Linked DNA regions of Homo sapiens: region 2 is linked to region 1. Evidence: fine-mapped expression QTL. A gene starts in region 1. The other region holds a variant in brackets. All regions are shown on one strand. Distances are from middle to middle.

Region 1 (8,516 bases):
CACAAAAATCAGCCGGGCATGGTGGTATGCGCCTGTAGTCCCAGCTACTTGGGAGGCTGAGGCAGGAGAATTGCTTGAACCCGGGAGGCGGAGGTTTCAGTGAGCCGAGATTGTGCCATTGTACTCCAGCCTGGGTGTTATAGCAAGACTCTGTCTCACAAAAAAAAAAAAAAAAAAAAAAGCATGTAGATACAGACATAACCCTTTTGGTTTCCTTACATGGTCCGCACAACTTAGTATTATTAGTATTCTGCATGTTGTTTAGTTTCGTTTTGGTTTGGAGACGGAGTCTCGGGATGTCACCCAGGCTGGAGTGCAGTGAATGATCTTGGCTCACTGCAACCTCTGCCTCCTGGGTTCAAGCGGTTCTTGTGCCTCAGCCTCCTGAGTAGCTGGGACTACAGGCGCACGCCACCACACCCAGCTAATTTTTGTATTTTTAGTAGAGATAGGGTTTTATCATGTTGCCCAAGCTGGTCTCGAACTCCTGAGCACAGGTGATCTGTCCGCCTTGGCCTCCCAAATTGCTGGGATTATAGGCATGAGCCACTGCGCCTGGCTTCACTCCAGATTTTTTATAATATTACTATGACTTTGTGCAAAGCCCCTCACATTTGCAGTACCTTTGAATCCTTGCCAAATCTCCATAAGGGGCTGTAATTCCCCACCTTTATGGCTGAGGCTCAAAGACAGGTTAACTTGCTTGGCCAAATTTTATAGCTAGGAAATAATGATAGGATTCGAACTCAGAGCTTACAGGAATCCAGAGCCCACAGGGTTGCCCACTATGCTAAGCCTCCCTTCAGGGCTGTCCCACAGAAGATGATAGAGTTATTCAAGATATTCTTTTTTTTTTTTTGAGACAGAATCCCCCTCTGTCACCCAGGCTTGAGTGCAGTGGTGCAATCAGCTCATTGCAAACTCTGCCTCCTGGGTTCAAGCAATTCTCCTGCCTCAGCCTCCCGAGTTGCTGGGATTACAGGTGTGCACCACCACGCTTGTCCAATTTTTGTATTTTTAATAGAGACGGGGGTTTCATCCTGTTGGCCAGGCTGGTCTTGAACTCCTGACCTCAGGTGATCCACCTGCCTCAGCATCCCAAAATGCTGGGATTACAGGTGTGACCCACAGCGCCCAGCCAATGATAGGGATATTCTGTATCTGCACCATTCAGTGCTGTCACTTCTAGCCCCTTCAAATGTAGGTACTGGGTTAAGGAGCTGAATTTTACATTTTATTTTAATTAAATTTAAGTAGCTGTATGTAGCTAATGTATCCCATCAAACAGCACAGCCTTAGAGTGCTTTCCAGAATTTGTTTTAACTCACCTACCAGGCTATATATACCTAAGAGGCTGATTTGATACAGGGTCCCCCTAATCAACCTTCCACAAACATTTGTGGAATGAATGAAGGGTCCATGGGGAAAGGGGGCCAAGGATATCAGCAAAGGTTTCCTAGAAGAGGCCATCTGATTACAGTGTGAATGCTTGCAGTGTTAGCCCTTAAACCACTCTCTCTGAGTGCCTGCCAAGGGCATGGCACTGCGTAGACTCCTGGGGATACCAGTTGGATATGAGGTTGTCCCACCTGCTCAGATCTTACAAATAAACTTCTCAAGGACAAATAGTTGGTGATAGGGTAGGAATCCTGAGACGTGGATGATCACTTTCAGATATATATTCTACTGACAGACTCAAGCACAAAGCTGCAATCCCTTATAGCTCTGTTTGCAATAGAAAAAGATTGAAAACCATCTAAAAGTTAGGGAACTAATTAAATCATTCTTGCACCATTTATCTGCCCAATGAAATGCTATGAAATCATTAGAAAGAATAAGGAAACTATAGCTGATGTGCTATAGCATTCCACATATGCTGATGTGGAATGATTAGATATCCTTAAATTAAAACAAAACAGGGCCAGGTGTGGTGGCTTACGGCTGTAATCTCAGCACTTTGGGAGGCCGAGGTGGGAGGAACACTTGAGCCTAGGAGTTGGAGACCAGCCTGGGCAACACGGCAAAACCCTGTCTCTACCAAAAATACAAAAATTAGCTGGGCATGGTGGTGCACTCCTGTAGTCTCAGCTACTTGGAAGGCTAAGGTGGAGCATTGCTGAGTCCAGGAGGTGGAGGTTGCAGTGAGCTGAGATTGTGTCACTGCACTCCAGCCTGGGCAACAGAGCAAGACCCTCTCTCAAAAAAAAGAAAAGAAAAATCAGGAGTTATGATAATCATATATGAATATGAGAACAACTTCAATTTCTTATCAAGATTCTGGTTTCTGAGAGCTACATCCAGTGTCCACCCTTTCCTTGGGAAGCTGCAGGTCCATCGTCCTACCCAGCCTCGAGTATGCCCCAATCTGCATGCCCCACGCTGCATCTTCTTTTCTCTAGCCTCTCTGTCTTTGGGCACAGAGTTGCTCAATCAACCTTTGATGAATGAAGAATGAATGGGGGTAACTCAGGCAGGATTTGACTGGGCCCTTTGTAAGATCGAGCAGGAGGGTCCAGGAAATAATTATTATTATGTTTCCAATACAACCGGCCCGGTGTTTTCCTGCAAGAAAAAGTACATCTCTGGGGTAAGCACCTTCACCTTCTCTCTTCCCTTACCTACTCTCCACTTCTCTGGGACAATTAGTCAACACTGGGAGCTCCAGGGTCTTGGCCCTTCCCCCTTTGGTCCAAAATAACCTCCTCCCCCACTTTGAGCAAATGCTTGGAATTCTTTCAACTGGAGGACAAAGCCTTTCATCTGCCAATTACTGATAAAGAGAAAATGCAAATATCGAGGGGGAAGGTGATTCATCAAGGGCCCAACATTTATTGAGTGGCCACTTAGGACCCGGCAGCAGGGCAGGCATTCTGGGGGAGGCCAAGGGGAACAAACCCCCGGCTGGCCCATTCTTTTCTCGTGTTTGCGGTTTCCTCGAGGTTTGTAAAGGGGGGGGATTAAATGAGGTGACTACCCAGCCCCTTCCCACTCTGACAGGCCAGGAACTCCTCGTGGAGGTGATAGATGGACTTAACTGTTTTTATACTAAGGTGGCTGCCATTGGACCTTTTTCTGATGCCAGCTTTTGGGGCCACTATGAGGCCACTTGGAGAGAAAGAAGGGCCTCAGGGAGAAAAAAGAATTAATTAGATGAAGCATTCTATTATATATTTTTTGCTTTATTTCACTTAATTCACTTTGCGTCACTCTCCAGCCCATGCAGCCTCCTTTGAACATGTTTATTTCATTATGGGGCAGTAGTGAGGCTGGTAAGTTACTAAAAAAAAAAAAAAAAAAAAAAAAAGCACGTGATGGCCAAGCCAGGCTCCAGTGTGAGCCCTGGCAGCGGCACATACGCGCTATGTGATCCTGGGTGAGTGGCTTTGCTTTTCTTAGTCCTAATTTCCTCCTTTGCAAAATGGGAACGAACAAGACGATTTCCCTTAAAGGGTTCTTGTGAGAAAGACAGGAACAAATAAAATGGTCCATGGTTCTGGACGGACTGAAGGCAGAACCGGCAGCACTCACACGAAGGGCTACTGATTGCACGCAGCAGCCAACGTGGGCGATTTCAGTTTGGAAACAAATTTTGATGTTTCCCAGCCTCATCCCTGCTTAAAAGATTTTTACAGCTAGTGAACATGAATGAAAACAAACTTCAAAGAGTAGCCTTTGAGGATGGGTGGGAAAGACTACAGTCAGATAGGACAGGAAACTTCTAAGGTGAGTGAGGGGGAAGCTGTCTCTTAGGACGGCCAATACGATGCTGATAGTGACATCGTATCTCCTGGTGGGGAAGCCACGTCCTCCCCACAGGTCTGTCTGATAGCCTGGGGACCATATGGGAGCACAGCAATCATTCAGATTCATAATTTCTCTGAGCTTCAGTTTCCCTATCTGCAAAATGACCTGCTCCAAGTATCCCACAGGGTTATGGCAGAAATAAAATGTCAGGCTCAAAGCCTGCTATCTACAATGTCCCTTTATCGTCTCCCTCTTGCCATGTCATTTTATCAGCATCTTTACCCGCAAGATCAGGCCTAGCAGGGCGCCACAGCTGGGGCTGGAGGAATGTTTAGGGCTAGCTTTTCTCAAGCCAAGTCGACCTGACTGTTGCTCATGATGGGAGGACAAGACAACCCAGGACCAGTGCTGGGGTAGTCAAAAACACTAGTAAGTGGACAGGGACCTAATGACACCCATGTATGTACGGAGGGTGCCGATACCTCCGCTAAGAAGCCCTGTAGGGGCTTCATCAAGGGCACTAGAGTTCCCCCCACCTATCCCAGAGCACCATGCACCTTTCCACCGACTTGTCTTCTATAAACTACCAACAAGGGCTTACCCTTCGCTCCTGTGCGGGCTGCGTTAGGAGGCGCCAGATCCAATTCTCTGCGTCTTTCGCTCCTGAGCATCTATCTGCTCCCCTTGCCGAGCGCAAGAACCTTTAAAAAATGTCCAACTTCTGTTTCAGGGCTGGTCGCCTAGTAAAGGAGTCCACAGAGGCGGGCAGAATGAATGAATGAAAGGCAACGTCTTCCGGTCAGCTGCGGACTGCAAAGGCTCTGGTCTGGCTGTATTTCCTGTACGTGTGTGTGTCCACATCTTTGAGTGCCGGGAGTTTAAAAGTTAGGCAGTCCTTATAGGTATGGAAGCCGAGCTAATTTCCTTCTGAGCCCCCCAAATGCCTCCTCCACATGGCGGGTCCGCAAATGGGGGGATCTGCAGAGGATCACCCCCCACGAAAAAGACATGCAGCAGAAAAGCAAAAAAAGAAAACAGTTATATATACAAAATGCTTTGAATTTGAGTCGGCCACACAGGTAATGTTGGGGGAGGGGTGGATGAAAGAAGAGGAAGAGGGGTAGCCCTGGGCAATGAGGGCAGGAACGGAGGTGGGGGGTCGTTTTTGGGGGTGCCAGGCCCCGGGGGCTTTCACGCCAGCATGCTCGGCTTGCATTTCCGCGCCTCCCGCTGAGGCCAGCCGTGCAAATCTGCACCTCCCTCCCCGCCCCCTCCTCCTTCCCTCCCTCCCTGCCCCGCCATCTCCGGGATGCGCCCGCCGCCTGCAACTCGGCCCTCCAAAAGTCAGCTCTGCACACAACTCCCGGGCGGCGGCGGCGCCTGCGTGCAGAGGCGCACTCGTGACCCAACAACAAAACAGCGATGCCACGGCGCTAACGGCGCCCGGTGCCTCCCGGGCTCCCTCCCCGCCCCATACCTCCTCGGGCCGCCGCCCCCACCCCCCCAAGCCCGGGCCGAGAGCCCCCCCAAATAGCCCGGCCGCGGGCTCCGAGCGCGATCGGCAACAATGTTTACGTTCCGGGGATTATGACGTCGACGCCTCCCCCCCCCCACAACTGCTGAAAATGGTTTCCTAGGACTTTGCAAACGGATCTGCCTAAGTGTTGGTGCAAAACTTTGTAGATCTCGGCTCTGGCTTGCTTTATTTATTTATTTTTTGGTTTGTTTTCTTTGGTCTTCCCTCCTTCCCCCCTCGGCCAAAATGCAGGGGGCAGGAGTGTTGACAATTAATTGGTGAACTCTCCTAAAAAAATGGAGGCAGAGAAAGACTCTGGAAGAAGATTGGTGTGTAGCTTTTTTTTTTTTTTTTTTTTTCCAAATCTGTATCTGGCATATGATAGATCTTTTTTTTTTTTTTTTTGGTTGTTTCTCGCTGCCTTTTCTTTCCTTTTCTGTATTTTGCAAGAGGACCGGGAAAAAAATATAATAAATTGCATGCAAAAGGAAGCAAGCTGCTTACTCCTCCAGCCCCTTGTGAGGCTTAGAGTCTCAGACACTTAAGTGGGGAGGTGGTATCGGGGAAAGGCGTGGAGGGGGGCTGAGCGGGCTCGGGGTTCGCCCGGAATCTGGGGGGCTGAGGGGCCGGGCGCTGGGCGGTGGAGGGAGGAGGCAGGGGGATGCGGGGAGTGGTGGGGGAGTCTCCTTAGGAAGTGAGTGTGCGCGCGCGCTTGTGGGGAGATGAGGCAGCTGCTGGTGCGTTTTGGGGTCTCCGATCCGAGCTTTGTGGCGGGCCGTCTGCCTCTCCCCCTTCCAAGCCCCGATTCTCCTCCCCCCACCTCCTCTTCTTGCACTGGCGGGCGGGCGGCGGGGGCGGCTGGGGTCTCAGCCCTTCCATTTCAGCTTTCCAGCTTCCCCGGTAGCTCGGGGGCGGCTCCAGCTTTAGAAATGCCGCCGGCCCCCGGTTCCGGCTTCCCGGCTCTGCCGCCGCGGCCGCTGGGGCTGCTGTTACCGCCGAGCCGGGCGCCGCAGCGGCTCCTCCTGGGGCCTACATTTGCCCCGCCAGCCCGTGTCCGGAGCCCCCTTCGCGGGTTACATAACCAGGCTCCCGGCCGAGTGGGCGAAGCCCAGCACATTTCGGGGGCGGGGGGCAGGGGAGGGTCCCCAGATGTCCCTTCAGTGCTTCCGAAGACACCGGAGGGGAGTACCCCGCGTAGAGCGCAGCTGGACCCTCGGGGTGCGGGCCCCTCTCCTTGTCCTGCTTTTCAGCATCTTTGGCAATTGCGCAAAGTTGCTTGGGTTGCAATGGTGGGGTGCAGGGGGCGCTCGGCTGCTGCACCTGTTAGTGCTGGGCCCAGGTTGAGAGGCGACCTCCAGCCCCCACAATAATGTCCCGGGCTCTCTGGTTTGGGTCCTCGCAGCGCCCGATTGACCGCCAGCGATACGACGAGAACGAGGACTTGTCGGACGTGGAGGAGATCGTCAGCGTCCGCGGCTTCAGCCTGGAGGAGAAGCTTCGCAGCCAGCTGTACCAGGGGGACTTCGTGCACGCCATGGAGGGCAAAGGTGAGGCGCCCCCACCCCGGGCCGCCCTCTGCGCTGCGGGCCGAGCGCACGTGGGGAGGGAGCTGCCGGTGGCTGGGTTCGTATTTCGCGCCCGCGTCCCCCATTCCAGGGGATCCGGTGACGAAACGAGGCCGAGCACTGGGGGGGTGGGGTGGGGTGGTGAGGGAGGAGGGCAGGCAGTAAGGGGGGCCGGGCATGGGCCTAGGCCCGGCCCGCGCCCACCACCAGCCCCAGGGTGGGCAGAGCCAGGGGGCCGGCGGACAGAGGGACCTGGAGATGGACAGGCGGACCGAGGGAGGGCGGGAGCGCCGCGTCCTCCCCCTCCCCGAGCCGGTCGCGCTCCCTGCGCTGCCTGAGGTGCCGCCGCCTGGCTGGAACTGGGTTCAGGGCGCCCCTGGGGCATCGGGGTAAGGCCCCCCAGGCCCGAAGCCTTCCCAATCCCGTTCCCGCTTGGGGCCTGCCAGTGAGGAACTGGTGATGGGGGCGCGTCGGGTGTTTGGGACGATGCCCCCTTAGGCCTGGGGTCCGCAGAGCCGCATTCCCCCATGGGCTCTGCCAGATTGGATCAGGGACCCCATGAGCCCTGAAGCTGTTGACCTGAACCCCTACCTGGGCCGGAGCTGTCTAGCGCTACAGCCTTGATAGGTTGAAGCCAAGAATTGGGGTCAGGGGGTGACTTCCCTTCAGGCTTCTGGGGGAGATCCCTGTCCCCTGGCAGTTTGAAGTGAGGAAATGGGTCTCCTCCCAGGCCTGAGACTTGGAGAGCTCTGTTCCTTGTGGGCCCACCCAATTGAGAGCGGAATCTGGGGACGCCTCCAGGGTTTTGGAGACCTTCACGGCCTGAGTTTCTCCCTGGCTCTCCTACTAGGAGGGTGGTGGGGGTCACCCTCCAGATGTTAAGGTGACGCCCTGGGTTGCCTCTGAGGCCTCCAGAGCCCTGGCCTTCCCAGCCTGCAGCCAGTGTGGCTCCTGGTTGAGGAACCTAGTATTGCCTGCGGGATTGGGGTTTTGAACATGCCCTACCTAGCCTTCCCAGGCCCTTCACTCCTTTTCCCTTTCAGATATTTCAATTTCCTTTAAGTTACAAAGTTTCTATTTTGTTCCCCCCACGCCCCTTGGAAAACCCTTCCATCCCTCAGTGAGCTGATAACCTGGAGTGCCTCCTTCCCTCCTCCAGGTTCTGGTTGAGTGGCTGTGGCTGTGGGGTTAGCTCTGAGAAGAGACTCCCAGCTTTGCAGTTTTGCGATTTCTCTTTTGTGCCCATTGCCTCCTGGAGCGCTGGGCTCCGGTGGTGAGGGGTGTTTGTTGGGGGAGGGAAGAATAAATTTCTCCCAGCCTGCCTGGTCCTAGAGCAGGGTGCTAGTCCCAGCTGATTTAAATTTTCTCTACATAAGTGGAATTTTAATTCCTCTCCTTTCTTCCCCCATTTTTACTGAGTTGAGTCATTTGGTGGATCCTATGTGCAAACAATATGCAAACTCTTCCTAGTCATTTGGGAGGAATTCTCAGCCCAGGATTTCAGAGCTTTTTCTCAGGCTGATTTGAGGAAGTTGAAGCTGACCCTGGGGGATGGGGTGCCTAGGGTGGGTGGGTCTAGAGGGCCGGTATTCCAGCCAGGGAGAGCTAAAGTGTATCCTTAGATCTGCTCTCCCGGCTTCTTTCAAAGGGGAGGGCCCAGGGCTTTGCTCTTTAATTCAGATCTGGCCCCA
Region 2 (8,000 bases), 130 kb after region 1:
TGAGTCCCAGGGAAGGGAGCATTTGGAGCCCATCTAGGGAAGATCTGAGTAGTCAGGGACCTAAAGGTTACTATCCCATCCTCCCTGGGGTGGCTCTGGTTTGTTGAGTGCATTCTGCATGCCAGGCTGGCTCGTAGAGAGGTGCAGTGGTGCACAAGACACCTGTGGTGAGTGCCCTCCTGTGCCCCGTCTCAAAGGGAAGGAACAGATGATTACCATCATGAGCGCTCTAACAGGATCTCCCAGAGGGGCCCTGAACCCAGTGCAGGTGGGCAGTAGGGGCTTCCAGAAGAAAGCAGCCTGTAAACTGACCAGACGGAATGAGTGGGCATCAGCCAAGTGGCTTGGGCGGGGGTGGGGTTGGCCTTCCGGGCTGGGGGAACAGAGACCGATTGTGTGGCCCCTTGCGGTCTTTCTTGGGGAGCAGACGGAGGTGGGAAAGGTGGGCAGGGTCCGAGCCTGTGGGTGCAGCCATGGAAGGTCTCGAGCTGTGTGCTGCGGCAAGAAGCACGCGCCCTCTGTCGTCCTCTCCTAGGGCTGCCATAACGGGTGGCTTAAAACAACCGGCCTTTCTTCTCTCCCGGTTCTGGAGGCCAGGAGTCTGAAGTCAAGGTGTGGGCTGGCGGGCCGGGCTGGCTCTGCGGGCTCTAGGGGAGGGTCCTTCCCCGCGCCTCCAGCTCCTGGTATGTGCTGCCATCCTTGGCACTTCTTGGCTTGTAGACAGGGCTCCAGTCTGTGGAAGGCCTGTGTCTTCACACACGTTCTCTACGTGCGTGTCTGTCTCTGTGTCCAAAAGTTCCCCTTTCGTAAGGACACCAGTCATACTGGATTAGCGTTCACCTGAATTACCTCGTTTAACCTGACGGTCTCTGCAAAGCCCCCATCTCCAAATAAAGATCACACTCTGAGGAATGGGGTTTAGAGCCCCCATCGTGTCTTTCTGGGGGTACACAGTTTGCTCCCTAACACCCTTTCCGGGGGTCTGGCCGTGCCTGCAGTCTCCCCATCTGACCAGTCGTGTCTGTTCCCCTGCAGAACCGGGCTGTGGGTCGGCCCAAGGGGAAGCTGGGCCCGGCCTCCGCGGTGAAGTTGGCCGCCAACCGGACAACGGCAGGAGCTCGGCGGCGCCGGACGCGATGCCGCAAGTGCGAGGCCTGCCTGCGGACCGAGTGCGGAGAGTGCCACTTCTGCAAGGACATGAAGAAGTTCGGGGGCCCCGGGCGCATGAAGCAGAGCTGCATCATGCGGCAGTGCATCGCGGTGAGTGCGGCCCCCGCCCAGCCCTGCGCTCGATTCAGGCCCCTGCGTGCCGGCCCGCGTGTCTGACCGCTGCTCGCTCTGGCCGCCCCTCCGCACACAGAGAAGCCGGGGCTGTGGACTCCCCGAGAGCTCTTCCTGTGGACGGGAAGGCGCTGGCCGCTTCGCAGGCTCAGGCCTCCTGCTCCTTCCCTCCCAGGGTGCTCAGGTACTTTGAAGTTGCTGCCATTAAAGATGACAGGCAGCCTGTCCTGTCTGTGACCCCGTTGCCAACATTACGGTTCTGGGTGACGGTTCTGGGCCCTTCCTTCCTTCCTTCCGGCCCTGCCTTCAGAGTCAGAAGTCTGGGTGGAAGGTCAGCGCCCCATCTCAGGGGGCTGCCCCCAACAAGGAGTGATTTATGGTACTGAGGAGCCGCGCCCGGGAGAGCCTGGCCCGCCCCTCCACACCGCCTGGCCTCAGCTCCGGCAGTGGCCCCGCGCCGCTGGTCTCGTCCCCAGACAGGGCAGTGGACATGGACTTCGCAACGGGGCGAGGTCGCGGGGTTTGCCCTTGAATTCCCTTGTACACACCCACATGCTCTGCCTTCCTCAGGGCGCTGCTCCCCGGGGGCCGGCGGTCCTCCCTGTGGAGGAGTCATCTCCCAGTCCCCGTGGAAAAGCAGGCTCGGCTGGAGGGACGGGATTCCTCGGCCCTGGTGCGCTCATCTGCAGGCCCAGCCTGGCATAGGGTGAGCCCTTCCTCCTTGGCTGTCGATGCCCCGCAGGCCCAGACACCTCAGCCATCTCCTTCCACGCATATTTCTTGTGTTTTGTTTTTTGAAATTGTGGTAAAAAAAATACATTAATCATTTTTAAGTATGCAGTACAGTAGTATTACCATATGCACGTTTTTGGGAAGCTGATCCCTAGAACTTTTTCATTTTGCAAAACTGAAACTCCATACCCACTGAAGCTCTACTCCCCTTTCCCCTCCCTCAGCCCGGGCAACCACCATTCCACTTTCAGTTTCTAAGAGCTTGACTCCTCTCGGGACCTCATAGAAGTGGAATTATGCAGTAATTGGCTTTCTGTGATTGGATTGGCTTGTTTATAGCCCTGAGCATAAAGTCCTCAGGGTTCATCCATGTTGAAGCATATGACAATTTCCTTTTTTTTTATGGCCGATTAATACTGAAAGTGTATTTGTACCAAATTTTCTTTTTTTTTTCTGAGATGGAGTCTTGCTCTGTTGCCCAGGCTGGAGTGCAGCAGTGGAATCTTGGCTTACAACAACCCCTGCCTCCTGGGTTCAAGCGATTCTCCTGCCTCAGTCTCCTGAGTAGCTGGGATTACAGGCACCTGCCACCACATCTGGCTAATTTTTATATTTTTAGTACAGACGGGGCTTCATCATGTTGGCCAGGCTGGTCTCGAACTCCTGACCTCAAGTGATCTACCCACCTCGGCCTCCAAGAGTGCTGGGATTACAGGCGTGAGCCACCACGCCTGGCTCAACTTTTCTTTATCCATTCATCTGTTGATGGACATATGGATTGCTTTCACCTCTTGCCTGTTGTGAATAGTGCTGCAGTGAATATGGGTGTGCAGATATCTCTTTGAGATCATGTTTTGAATTCTTCTGGATATACAATTGACCCTTGAACAACACAAGGGTTGGGGCACCATCTGACCTCTGTGCAGTTGAAAATCTGCATGTAACTTTTGACTCCCCTAAAACTTAACTACTGTTAGCCCTATTGTTGACCAGAAGCCTTACCAGTAACAAAAACAGTCCATTAACACATATCTTATATGTATTATATACTGTATTCTCACAATAAAATAAGCTAGAGAAAAGAAAATATTAAGAAGATCATAAGGAAAATATATTTATCATTCATTAAGTGGAAGTGGATCATCATAAAGGTCTTCATGCTCATCATCTTCACATTGTGTAGGCAGAGGAGGAGGGGTTGGTCTTGCTGTCTCAGAGGTGGCAGAGGCAGAAGAGATGGAGGAGGTAGAAGGGGGGGGCAGGAGACGCAGGCACACTCAGTATAACTTTTGTTGAAAAAAAATCGGCATATAAGCGGACCCACACAGTTCAATCCTGTGCTGTGTAAGGGTCAACTCCATGCCCAGAAGTGGGCTTGCTGGGTCATATGACGATTCTATTTTTAACTTTTTGAGGAACCTCTGTACTGTTGGCCACCGCGGCCATCCCGTTTTACATTCCCACCACGGGTGCATGAAAGTTCCTGTTTCTTCCTCTTTTTTTTTTTTGA[T/GAT]GGAGTCTTGCTCTGTCACCCAGGCTGGAGTGCAGTGGCACGATCTCGGCTCACTGCAAGCTCCACCTCCTGGGTTCATGCCATTTTTCCTGCCTCAGCCTCCAGAGTAGCTGGGACTACCAGTGCCCGCCACCACGCCTGGCTAATTTTTTTGCATTTTTAGTAGAGACGGGGTTTCACCATGTTGGCTAGGATGGTCTGGATCTCCTGACCTCGTGATCCACCCGCCTCGGCCTCCCAAAGTGCTGGGATTACAGGCGTGAGCCACCGCACCCGATGAAGGTTCCTGTTTCTCTGTGTCCCCACCAACATCTGTTATGTTATGGGCTTTCAGTTTGTTTTTAGTGGCCATCCTAATTTGTATGAGGTGACGTCTCACTGTAGTTTTGATTTACTTTTCCCTAATTCTTAGTGATGTTGAGCATCTTCTCAAGTGCTTATTGGCTGTTTGTCTGTCTTCTTTGGAGAAATGTCTGAGTCCTTAGCCCGTTTTTAAACTGATTTACTTTTTTCTTTTCTTTTTTTTCTTTCTTTTTTTTTTTTGAGACAGAGTCTCATTCTTTTGCCCAGGCTGGAGTGCAGTGGCGCAGTCTCGGCTCACTGCAACTTCTGCCTCCTGGGTTCAAGAAATTATCCTACCTCAGCCTCCCAAGTAGCTGGAGTTACAGGCACATACCTCCACACCCAGCTAATTTTTGTATTTTTGGTAGAGGCAGGGTTTCACTCTATTGTCTAGGCTGGTCTCAAACCCCTGACCTCAGGTGATCACCCTCCCGCCTTGGCCTCCCAAAGTGCTGGGATTACAGTGCATCTGGCCTAGATCGGCTTTCTTTTGGGGGTTTTTGTTGCTGAGTTAGAGGAGTTCTAGATATGTTTTGGATATTAACCCTTATCAGGTCTCTGGTTAGCAAGGATTTTCTTCCATCCTGTAGATTGCCTTTTCACTCTGTCAGTTCTTTCTTTTGCTGCAGAAGTTCAGTTCCACTGCTTGTGCTTTTAATTGGTACCCGAACCCCAGGACATTTCCATGGATTTCGGGGAATTTGTGAGCCATCCTGAAATTAAATGCATTTTTGTCTATGTGCATGCATGGATGTGCATTTTTTGGAGACTGGGTCCATGTGACCCATTGGATCCTATAGAATTTAAAAGAGCTTGTCTATAGCAACTGTTGGTTTTTAGAACGGTGTCACCTAAAACCCAATGTGTGCCAGTAATGAACCCGCGACTGTCTTTTTCTCTTTGGCATTATTATCTCCCAGCCCCCGTGTGCTGGGCCCAGTTATAGGAAACCTGTCTCGGGTGCCATCTTATCTTTGCAGCTCTGGTGCCTGGCACAGCGCATGCTGGTTGAAGGAAACCCCATTTTTCTACGTCTCCTACTCTCTTCAGCTTGACGTGGCTTCTGGAACTGATGGCAGATGCAGGCTTGGCCTGACCCTTGGGGTCCTTCTTACTCTTCTCCTAGCCCTTCTGCTCTGCCAGGGCACTTCTCACGTGTTACCCACCTGTGACATACGCAGCCCCACCTATCTTCCTTTTCTGGACCCTCCCTTTGCTCCGTCGCTGGGGCTGCCTCCGTAGCCTCCCCTCTCCACCATGTCCCTGCCAGTGTCATGCCGATGTCATGCTGGTGTCCTGCAGTCTGCCCCCCCACATGCGCCCCAAGCCCCCTGCCAGCCCCTGCAGGAGATTTGCCTCTGGCACCGCCTCCCATCCTGCCACCTGGCTCAGAGCCCGTTCTGCCATCTGCCCCACCCCACCACAGACCCTCTTCTTGCCGTGTGGGCCGTGCTTCACCCTGTGCCCCCCGCTGCAGTCTGGTCCCCAGACGTCCCCTTTGGCCTGGCCTGCTCTGTCCTCATTCACCTTGAGGCCCCGCGGCCTTGCCCACTTGGCTTCTCTCCACCCTGTCCTCCAAGTCCTCCAGAAATCAGCCTCTGCTGCTTCTGAGAACTCTTGAACATGATTTTTCCATGTTTTCTTTGGATTTCAGCGACTTAATGTCTTTGTCTTCCCAAATAGCTCATGGGGAGCAGCCATCTCCCTCGCTCCTGTGGCCCCAGGACCTTGTTTCAGGCCGTGGCAGATGTGTGTTTGGTATTTGTGGAAGGAACGATGACTGCCTTGCCTTCTGTGTCCTGTTTATTAGAATTCAAACATTTGCGCCATTTAATCAAGTCTTTTTCACTTACCAATGGCGTGTATATCCCAGCCTGCTTGAAGCTCCTCTGAGCAGCATAATAAAGGTTGGCTGCGTGCTTCCTCTGTCTGCAGGTGCACTGGGCGGGATGAGGCTGACCTGCCCTGGCCTCAGGGGGCTCACAGCCGGGTGCATCAAGTTCTCACACTTCGTGGTCTCAGGGACCCCTTCATGCTCTTCAAAATTATGAGGACCCTAAAGAGCTTTTCTTTTATGTAGGCTATATATTTATTAATATTGACCGTATTAGAAATTTAAACTGAGTTTGATGTGAGAGGACTTTAGCTAAAAAAAAAAATTAAAACTGATTTTTTTTTTTTTTTTTTTTTTTTTTGAGACAGAGTCTTGCTGTGTCGCTCAGGCTGGAGTGCAGTGGTGTGCTCGTGGCTCACTGCAGCCTCTACCTCCTGGGCTCAAGCAGTCCTCCCACCTCAGTCTCCCGAGCAGCTGGGACTACAGGCATTCACCACTACACTCAACTAATTTTTGTATTTTTTTGTAAAGACAGGGTTTTGCCACGTTGCCCAGGCTAGTCTCAAACTCCTGGGCTCAGGCAATCCGCCTGCCTTGGCCTCCCAAAGTGCTGGGATTGCAGGCATGTGCTATCACTCCTGGCCAAGAAATTTTTTTTTAGATTTTAAATTTATCTTAAAATAACAAGAAAACCCATGACGTGTTAATAGAAATAACATATTTTGGCCGGGCGCGGTGGCTAATGCCTGCAATCACAACACTTTGGGAGGCTAAGGTGGGAGGATCACTCGAGGTCAGGAGTTTGAGACAAGCCTGGCCAACATGGTGAAACCCCATCTCTACTAAAAATACAAAAATTACCCAGCACGCCTGTAGTCCCAGCTACTCGGGAGGCTGAGGTGGGAGAATCGCTTGAACCCAGGAGGCAGACAGAGGTTGCAGTGAGCCGAGATCATGTCACTGCACTCCAGACTGGGCAACAGAGCAAGACACCGTCTCAACAATAAATAAGAAAAAAGAAATAACATATTTTTATGAGAAATAATTACATTTTCCAAAAGAAAAATAAGAAGAATGGCGTTGTTTTATATTTTTGTAAATCTCTGTTATGTCTGATTCATTAGAAAGGACTTGGAATTGCCGGGTGCGGTGGTTTACGCCTGTAATCCTGGCACTTTGGGAGGCCGATGTGGGTGGATCATGAGGTCAGGAGTCCGAGACCAGCCTGACCAACATGGTGAAACCCCGCATCTCTACTACAAATATAAAAAATTAGCTGGGCGTGGTGGCGGGCACCTGTGCTACTCGGGAGGCTGAGGCAGGAGAATCGCTTGAACCCAGGAGGCAGAGGTTGCAGTGAGTCGAGACCGTGCCACTGCACTCCAGCCTGGGTGACAGAGCAAGACTCCATCTCAAAAAATAAAAAAAAAAAAGAGAAGACCTGGAATTTTCATATCTGCTTCTGTGTTTTGTCTATTGTGATATGTTGTTTTGGAGGGAGTATGAGGAAAATTTTGCCTCACACAGATATATACTACTTGGAAAAGGGAGGAGTATTTTAATAGCCTTTTTGATAACTGTGGATACTCTGATACTCAACTAGAACTCAACAGTTTTTTTTAAAGTTTAGTTGCAATGTGGAGTCTGAAACTGTATCAATGAGCTGTTCACACTGTTACATTGAAAATCATTAGCCTGTCTTGACCTTTGAGTAGCTCATTTGCTCAGGCATGATGTTGTAACACCATGTATTGGTCATCTGGAAAATATTGGCTCCCTGAGTTAGGCGGATTTTCCAAATATTGGCACATAATATTATTTTAGAAATCACGTTTGTTAATATGATTACTGATCTCATTGGAAAAGTCTCTCAGTATTGGGAAGCTGTGCGGGTTATGGTGGTTCATAAAAGTTTTCCAAAAGTCTAATTTTCATTCAGAAACTTGAATTTTGTCATTTGCAACAAATGCTGTCAGTTATTTTTCTGGAAATGACAAGCTCACTTCTTTGATCTTCACAAAAATACACCAGTGTCCAGGGGGTTTCTATCAGTCATTCCTTCAAGTAAAAATAATCTGTGGAGAAAGTGGCCATTTCACCTCCCAGCTCAGTCACGAGTGCTTTTCCTTTGGTACGCGTCACCTGTGTGCCGAGGCACTTTACGCATACTTCTTATTGTCACAAAGCACATGAAAAGGATGTGTACTCTAGGGTAAGGTTTTCATAAAGTAATTTTTACTGTTTCATCAGAGATATTCTTAGATGAAACTGGTGATCTTTTTTTTGACGGAGTCTCGCTCT

The links. PIP is the estimated chance that this variant, and not a neighbour inherited with it, causes the effect.
Region 2: its variant is the best candidate, but not a certain one, in a credible set for the expression of KDM2B in fibroblasts (GTEx, PIP 0.67).

Annotation. Positions count from the first base shown.
Region 1 is chr12:121,577,093-121,585,608 of GRCh38, reverse strand. It overlaps KDM2B (lysine demethylase 2B), which reads left to right and starts at 4,586. Exons shown (of 23, transcript NM_032590.5): 1 at 4,586-4,823; 2 at 6,663-6,807. The coding sequence starts at 4,698. KDM2B-DT (KDM2B divergent transcript) reads right to left here and starts at 5,098. Exons shown (of 4, transcript NR_183427.1): 1 at 4,346-5,098. RefSeq lists enhancers at 1,556-2,489, 2,490-3,425, 4,361-5,296, 8,218-8,516 and silencers at 4,866-4,915, 4,996-5,305, 6,465-6,544.
Region 2 is chr12:121,446,380-121,454,379 of GRCh38, reverse strand. It overlaps KDM2B (lysine demethylase 2B), which reads left to right. Exons shown (of 23, transcript NM_032590.5): 13 at 1,036-1,260. Among named protein-coding and RNA genes, the nearest start is that of MIR7107, 6.0 kb to the right of the region's middle. RefSeq lists enhancers at 642-1,455, 1,456-2,270, 4,802-5,302, 5,303-5,803. The variant T/GAT (reference allele first, on the strand shown) is at 3,524.